2 linked regions of the Homo sapiens genome follow. The protein of the gene in region 2 purifies or fractionates together with the protein of the main gene of each other region. This does not show direct contact. Each region holds a gene or a part of one and is shown on either strand. Other genes may lie near its edges.

Region 1 (3,760 bases), on a different chromosome or scaffold from region 2:
TAAGGGAATACCTTTATACCTAATACCTCCCCATCACTGACAATAGAAAAATGAGAAACACTGTTCAAACAGACCTCAAAAGGCAAGTTAAACAAAAAGATCATAAGGCTCAACTGCAAAAGAGTAAGTAGGATCCTACCTTTGGTAAACTGACACCAGAGAAACCAAAAGTTTGTTTTGCAAATAAAATTTTACTAGGCCAAATTTCAGAGTCCTTTTGTTTTAATTATCAAGCCCATTTTACCTCCACATTTTGAAACTTTTACATTATATGGTTTTCTAAAGAAATGGGCAGTGCCATACAAAGAAGCGTTACACAGGATTAATTTACCTCTGGCCCTAAGTTCATCTTCTTCATCCGCTTCTATATCCAGATCATCAAATACGGCAACCAGAGGAGTTTTTAATGTTGTATTACTGGGTATTTTAAAATCCTTGATAACAAAAAAAGATAGCACACTTGAACAAATCCTTAAATTTAAAAAAAGTTTTAATTGTAACTTATATAACATCTATACCATAAAAATTATTGAGATGTTATTTTAATAGTGGAACCATAAGAATTTGTGGTATTAGCAATTAAACTTACATTTATATTTTGAAGGAAATAAAACCCTAGGGTAATAGCATGTCAGTCCCGCTTTATTAACATATATATTTGAGTTAAAAAGGCACTTTTTACAACCGAATTTTCTGAATTAAAACTCCACAATAACTGCAATTATGTGACAGTAAACCATAGCTAAAAAGATCTCCGAAGGATACTATCCTACACTGTCTTCTCAGATCTCATTTTCAACAGGGAAAAAGGCAAAAGTTTTTCATCATAACACATTATCTATAGACTTCTACAATCTCTCCTGATACTTATTACTGTATTTACTTTGCACACTTTTTTTTTTCCGAAACAGAGTCTCACTCTGTTGCCAGGCTGGAGTGCAGTGGCACGATCTCAGCTCACTGCAACCTCCACCTCCTGGGTTCAAACGCTTCTCCTGCCTCAGACTCCCAAGCAGCTGGGACTATAGGTGCATGCCACAACGCCCAGCTAATTTTTGTATTTTTAGTAGAGAAGGGGTTTCACCATGTTGGCCTGAATGGTCTTGATCTCTTGACCTCATGATCCGCCCACCTCGGCCTCCCAAAATGCTGGGATTACAGGTGTGAGACACCACACCCGGCCTGCACACTTTTACGTATATTAAATAGTTCAAGCACTTACTTTAAATAATAATATTCTAATATTAATTTCCAACAATTGGCTTGACTCAGAGGTTGCAACTGATAACCTGTTAGCCAAATGCTAGTAAACACTTTAAAAAAAAAAACGAAAAAAACTTTGAGCTAAAGTTTAAAAAATTCGGAGACGACAAATAAAAATCAAAATTTGAAAGTTCTCTTGTAATATCAGAAGATTGAACTACAATGAACCAACATTCAGCAACACCCAAACAGAGAAGGAAACTGAATAGCAGAAAGAATTTAGCATGTACTCTGGTTCTCCAAGTTATTATAGCCTTACTTTACCTCTAAAATGCAGGCATATGCACTAATTCCCAACGATTTTACTTTCCTGACATCTGTAGAGACTGGACATTTGAGTGGACTTCATACTTTCATTTTGTTTTCATAAAGTAATTGCTTTTAAAAAGATACATGCTCACTACAAAATATCTAAATACACAGAAGTACAGAGGCTTAAATCACCTGAAATTTTACTATCTAGAAAAAATGTCTATTTGAAAAATCTTATTAATATTTGCATGGCCTCCAATATTTTACTATTTTGCAAATATCCTGTGGTAAACTGGATTTCAACAGCATATAAGTTTTGGACCACTAAAGAAATCTATCTGAACCACTGTTTTCTTCTGAATAATTTCTTCAACAATGGGATCATAAGGAAGTTGAATGAAATTAAGTTTATGCCTTTTATGTGTTAACATATTTACAAGTCATCAGAAAATTATTAACAAGCCATCAGGAAAGTATCAGTATACTTATTCTATCAGATTCAACATTTATTAAAGTTTGTAATCTTGATCTTTTCTGGCAGAAATGGCAACAGATAGCTTATTTAACTTACTTCTCTAGTAAGTGATGCTGATAGTTTTGCCTTTATATATTATTAGTTCCTTGTGTGATTAAACTTTAGTCATAACATTACACTTTTTTCTTTTTTAAAACTTTTTCTACTTATTACCATTCAGCTATCTTCAGTGGGACAAACTTTTGTTAATAATGTAAGAGGATTCAACGAAACGGCCATTTTCATACTATCTGGACTTTTGAAAAAGACTAAACATGTTTGTGAATGATAAATAGGTATAAGTGGGAGAAACAGTAATGGTTATAATTAACTAGAGCCATTCAACTGAGAAACTGAAAATGCAAGAAATTATTCTTTGACTAAAATCTAGCCATCTTTCATGTGTAAGGCAAGCAAATTTATTATCACAAATATCTACCATAAGAATGTGATACAAACATACAACAGAAAAACCTGACAGTTGGTATCAATGAACAAGTACAGAAATATGTGATTTCTATAACACACATGAGGAAAAAAACTTGCTGTTAATCAAATCTGATCAAATTCTGATCAACTGATGATCTGATTAAGAAGCCAACTATTCTAAGTTAATTTCCTTTTTCCTATTTTTCTATGACTTTAAGAATTCTGAAAATTAAGTGATAAATTCTGCAAGCAAACCCATGTGTTTTCTAAGTCTCTTGATCCAAAAGGAGAAAAATCTTTTTTTCTTTTTTTTTTTTAGATGGAGTCTCACTCTGTCACCTAGGCTGGAGTGCAGTGGCAAGGTCTCGGCTCACTGCCAGCTCTGCCTCCCAGGTTCACGCCATTCTCCTGCCTCAGCCTCCAAAGTAGCTGGGAATACAGGTGCCCGCCACCACACCCGGCTAATGTTTTGTATTTTTAGTAGAGACGGGGTGTCACCATGTTAGCCAGGATGGTCTCGATCTCCTGACCTCGTGATCCAGCCGCCTTGGCCTCCCAAAGCACTGGGATTACAGGCGTGAGCCACCGCACCCAGCCCAAAGGGAGAAAAATCTTTAACCCAAAGACTGATGCTAAGCTTTATTATATTCTACTTTGTTGTCAATAATAAGTAAAATGTTCACAGTAATACAAAGGGGATGGAGGGGAGGAGAGAACGGGGAAGAGAGCTGAATTAGTAACTGCCATATGCTATCAAAGAAGGCCCACCACCTTTCTTGAAATCAGACTTACCAGAAAAAGATAAAGACTACTTGAGTCATTTAAAAAAAAAAACTTCAAAAATTCATTAGGGCCTTTTCCATCTTCAAACAGGTGGGCTTCAATCTCACCCTAATCTAGCACTCTAAGCAACACAAGAAAGGGGAGTCTGAGTGCTTTATTTGAGAGAAAAAAGGCACATTACAGAAATTTTCAAAGTACAGGTTAGGCAGTATTCCTTTTGAAAATTTCAGCTACATGACAAATTCTGAAATTATTACCGGAATGTTTTACAGCTTAACTAAGTGGATCTAGATTATTACCTGGACACTGTTTTCTTGTATTTGGTGAGGTTGTCTTACATGAGGCAATGAAGGCTGAGTTCCTAATTTCCTATCCAAAAATACTTCTTTGCTGCAAGCATAACACCATACTCGAAGAGTGGTAAGGTTCACAGTTAGATAATGCTTTGTCTCCTATATAATTTCACAGTAGAGGGAAAAGAGGAACCAAAATTACATATACTTGAAAAGACTTCTTCAA
Region 2 (5,215 bases):
TGTGTTCACAAGACACAAAATTTACAAAGTGTAAAAGGGTATCTTTTCCAAGTCATCAAGTTTTCCTTGGATATGACCAATACTACTGTTTTCTTTTCTGTCTTTCCAGAGATAGTCTGTGTAAAGCAAATATGTACATGTTCTTTTTCATTCTTTGGCTTTTTATTTATTTTAAAGACCGAAATACTGTCTATTTCTTTGATTTTAAAAAGGAAAAATCTTTTACAAGGGTTGAAAAACTACCTATCAGGTACTATGTTCACTGCTTGGATGATGGGATCATTAGAAGCCCAAACCTTATATTATGCAGTAGACTCATGTAAACAAACCTGCACGTGTTCTCCCTGTCTGAAGTTTAAGAGGTACAATAAAAAACTTTTAAAAGATGTGTGGCATAATTTACAACTCTTCTGAACATTTTACGCTTAATATATCTTGTAGATACTTTTTGCATGCATTCATTAAGCTTATACATTCTCTTTTGTGACTGTTAACATTCCACTCTATGGATGTGTCATCATTTGTTTTACCATTTTAAGGACTTCTCTCTTCCTGTCTAGTCTTTTGCTGTTATAAGTGGGAATGCAGGGGATAATCTTGTATAGATATCATTTATCACAGGTGTGTGTATTTAAAATAAAGTCCTATAGTGGGTTTTAACAGTGAATTAAGAAAACTTAAAGTCCTGGGAACAATTCTTTGTCATAGGATGATATATGGATTTGTACTTTTGATATTTTCAAGTTGCCCTCTCTTAGAGATTCTATTATTTTATACTCCCAGTAACTGCTTAGGGGAGAATGCTGGTTGACCTAACCCTTTCCAGCACTACCAGGCTTTGATTTTTGCCAGTCTGATAAGTAAAAAAACAGTATCTCAAGATGACTTTAATTTGCTTTCCTCTTAACTATGTACATATTCATAGCCATTTGCGTTTATTATCCTTTACTCATTTTTCTGTTAGGTATTTGGTCTTGTTGATTTGTAGGAAGCCTTTAAAAATTATTATTACTGTTAATGTATTTTTATTTTTTTTTTTGAGTCAGAGTCTCGCTCTGTCACCCAGGCTGAAGTGCAGTGGTGCCATCTTGGCTCGCTGCAACTCCACCTCCTGGGTTCAAGCAATTCTCTTGTCTTAGCCTCCCGAGTACCTGGGATTATGGGCGCACACCACCATGCCTAGCTAATTTTTTTATTTTTAGTAGAGACAGGGTTTCACCATGTTGGCCAGGCTGGTCTTGAGCTCCTGACCTCAAGTGATCTGACCTCCTTGGCCTCCCAGAGTGCTTGGATTACAGGCGTGAGCCACTGCTCCCCCGCCGCTATTATTTTTTAATAGAGACGGACTTTCACTACGTTGGACAGGCTGGTCTGGGACTCCTGACTTCAAGCAATCCTCCTGCCTTGGCCTCCCAAAGTGCTGGGATTATAGGTGTGAGTCACCATGTCCAGCCCCCTTTTTATATTAGGGAAAGGAGTTCTTTATAAGTTGCAAATACCTTTTCCTGGTTAGTTTGCTTTTTGATTTTGCTTAAATGATTTTGCCAGATTAAAAAATTTACAGAATATTAAATTTTATTTTATTTTTATTTCTTTGAGACGGAGTCTTTCCCTGTCACCCAGGCTGGAGTGCAGTGGCGTGATCTTGGCTCAGTGCACCTTCTGCCTCCTAGGATCAAGTGATTCTCATGCCTCAGCCTCCTGAGTAGCTGGGACTACAGGCGTGCACCACCACACCAGGCTAATTTTTTAATTTTTAATAGAGATGGGGTTTCGCCATGTTGGCCAGGCTAGTCTCGAATTCCTGGCTTTAAATGATCCACTGGCCTCAGCCTCTCAAAGTGCTGGGATTGCAGGTGTGAGCCACCACACCTGGCATCATATAGTATTAAATTTATCACTTTTTTTTTTTTTGGCCTTACTGGTTTTAGATTTTGTGTCTTATCAAAAAACTTTTCTCAGGATTTAGGAATAAAAAAATTAAATATTAGAGTCATCTGGAATTTATTTCAGTGTAAGGTCCATTGAGTTCCAGTGATTTGTCATGGCTTCTTTAAACGTGTGTACTAAGAAGTTAGATAGCTTTTTACTTATTTATGGAACCATGTCTTCTGAACCATATGAAGAACTAATTCTGTACAATTAGCTCTTTGGGATGAAAATGGAACTTTACTTATTTAATTTACTCATCACTGGGGAACTTGCTATATAAAGGAATCTTCTGGTAAATTCATAAAGTGTTAGGATGCTTTAAAAATGCATAACCTTCAAATTTAACTTTTTAATTTTGTATACTTTTTTAATAATGAATATACTCTTTTGTTTCTTTGTGTGAGATTATAGTATTTATAGTGAATTGTTAGAGGATTAGGATATAAGCACCTTAACTAATTAGATTAAAATGAACTTTAAAAAATGATTAGATATTCCAGAGTAAATATTCTTACTGTGATTGAAAGAAAAGCTTAGAAGCAAAGTCTTAGAAGAATTTAGGAATATTTTGGGGATAACATAATCGTTCTTGTATTTTTGTTCAAGAAATAAATACTCACTTGATTAAAGGGTGTTTTTTGTTTTTGGTTTTTTTTTGCTTGTTTCTTAGGATGGGAAGGCCATTGTGACTATGTGGTGATTACAGTTGTCTTACTACTGAGTTTCCTACTGAAATCATGGAGGAGAAACAGCAGATTATATTGGCTAATCAAGATGGTGGAACAGTGGCAGGAGCAGCACCTACCTTCTTTGTCATCTTAAAGCAGCCAGGAAATGGCAAAACTGATCAAGGAATTTTGGTTACTAATCAGGATGCCTGTGCTTTGGCTAGTAGTGTGTCATCACCAGTAAAATCTAAAGGGAAGATTTGCCTTCCAGCTGATTGTACTGTGGGTGGAATCACTGTTACCCTCGATAACAATAGTATGTGGAATGAGTTCTATCATCGAAGCACAGAGATGATTCTGACCAAGCAAGGAAGACGCATGTTTCCTTACTGTCGTTATTGGATAACAGGTTTAGATTCAAATTTGAAGTATATTCTTGTCATGGATATATCTCCTGTGGATAACCATCGTTATAAGTGGAATGGTCGTTGGTGGGAACCTAGTGGGAAGGCTGAACCTCATGTTTTGGGGAGGGTTTTCATTCATCCAGAATCTCCTTCCACAGGTCATTATTGGATGCATCAACCAGTATCTTTCTATAAACTCAAACTTACCAACAATACACTGGACCAAGAAGGGCATATCATCTTGCACTCTATGCATCGTTACCTGCCGAGGCTTCATTTGGTGCCTGCAGAAAAGGCTGTGGAGGTGATACAATTAAATGGCCCTGGTGTCCACACTTTTACCTTCCCACAGACTGAATTCTTTGCAGTAACAGCTTATCAGAACATTCAGATTACTCAGCTGAAAATAGATTACAATCCATTTGCCAAAGGCTTTCGGGATGATGGGCTGAATAATAAGCCCCAGAGAGATGGAAAACAAAAGAACAGCTCTGACCAAGAAGGGAATAATATTTCCAGTTCTTCTGGTCATCGGGTCCGTCTTACAGAAGGTCAGGGGTCAGAGATACAACCAGGTGATTTGGATCCTTTGTCAAGGGGTCATGAAACATCAGGCAAGGGTTTGGAGAAGACTTCCCTTAATATAAAACGAGACTTTCTTGGTTTCATGGATACTGATTCAGCACTTAGTGAAGTTCCTCAATTGAAGCAAGAGATTTCTGAATGGTAAGTAGTAGTTTTTCTGTTCTTAGAAATAAAAGGAAGATTGAGATGGGCCAGGTGTTGGATTTAACATCTTGGTTCTGTGGAATGCTACAGATGTTGATAAATGTAAGCCACTATAAAATATACTACAACTGCTTTTACATTCTGTGAAGTGACATCATTTTTCTGTAATGAGAATCAGTTGGGTTCAGGATCTAGAATTGTAGGCAAATTGGATAACTTATCAGAATTATTCATATGTATTTAGAATGTTCCTTGATATCCTTGGGGGATTGGTTCCAGGACCACCCAAGAATACCAACACCTGACTACATTTGAGACTCCATCTCAATAAAAAAAAGAAAATCATACCAATTATGACAACATAGATGAGCCTAGAGAATACTATGCTAAGTGAAATAGGCAAAACAAAAAAAGACAAATACTGCAAAATATTCATAAAAGTAGAAAGTAGAATGGTGGATGCCAGGGGGTAGAGAGAGACTGAAAGATGTTGGTCAAAGGGTACAAAGCTTCAGTTATGCCAGGTAAATTTTAAAGAAAGAGTAAGCATACTATTTTTTTTGAGATGGAGTCTCGCTCTGTCGCCCAGGCTGGAGTGCAGTGGCATGATCTCCGCTCACTGCAAGCTCCGCCTCCTGGGTTCACGCCATTCTCCTGCCTCAGCCTCCCAAGTAGCTGGGACTACAGGCGCCCGTCACCACGCCCGGCTAATTTTTCTATATTTTTGGTAGAGACAGGGTTTCACTGTGTTAGCCAGGATGGTCTCGATCTCCTGACCTCATGATCTGCCCGCCTCGGCCTCCCAAGGTGCTGGGATTACAGGCGTGAGCCACCGTGCCCGGCCGTAAGCAATACTGTTTTAACAAGTAATAATTTTAAGCTTCTTCTTTGGTTGGGCAATTTATGGATTAGGATATCCCTCAGGCAGTAAATTCACAAATATTAGATACAAATAACGACTCTGAATCCATTTTGTGCCTTATATAGATAAGTTTTGTTTCCATTATGATTTGGCGTTATTTTTCTTCCCTTCTTCAATTATAGTAGGCCCACCACATCTACTGGTTCTGCATCCACAGTTATAGCTGGCCAACTAAGGGACTTGAGTATCCTCAGATTTTGGTATCTGGGGAGGGTCCTGGCACCAGTCCTCCTCAGATACAGAAAGTTGCCTGTAATCATGAGTTGTCTATACAATCAGTATTCCGTGGAGGCTGCAGCTGTGTATTCAACTAACCACAAATCCAAAATATTTGGGATGAGATGGGGGGGAGGATTTCACAAAGTTCCAAAAAGCAAAACTTGAATTTGACTATTGTGAATGATGCTGTTTTTTCTTTTTGTTTGAACTTGCCTTATTTTTGTTTGTTTATTTTTTTTGAGACGAAGTCTCACCCTGTCGCCCGGGCTGGAGTGCAGTGGTGTCATCTCGGCTCACTGCAACCTCTGGCTCCCAGGTTCAAGCGATTCTCCTGCCTC

Evidence for each region. The genes of interacting proteins can lie anywhere in the genome.
Region 1: the proteins of MGA (region 2) and USP33 purify together in Homo sapiens (co-immunoprecipitation; one large-scale study listed by IntAct). This does not show direct contact.

Annotation. Positions count from the first base shown.
Region 1 is NC_000001.11:77,735,725-77,739,484, forward strand, and holds part of USP33 (ubiquitin carboxyl-terminal hydrolase 33), read right to left. Parts: intron 3,694-3,760; coding exon 3,541-3,693; intron 435-3,540; coding exon 332-434; intron 1-331. UniProt on the Homo sapiens protein: Deubiquitinating enzyme involved in various processes such as centrosome duplication, cellular migration and beta-2 adrenergic receptor/ADRB2 recycling.
Region 2 is NC_000015.10:41,666,226-41,671,440, forward strand, and holds part of MGA (MAX gene-associated protein), read left to right. Parts: intron 1-2,602; 5' UTR 2,603-2,669; coding exon 2,670-3,733; intron 3,734-5,215. UniProt on the Homo sapiens protein: Functions as a dual-specificity transcription factor, regulating the expression of both MAX-network and T-box family target genes. Functions as a repressor or an activator.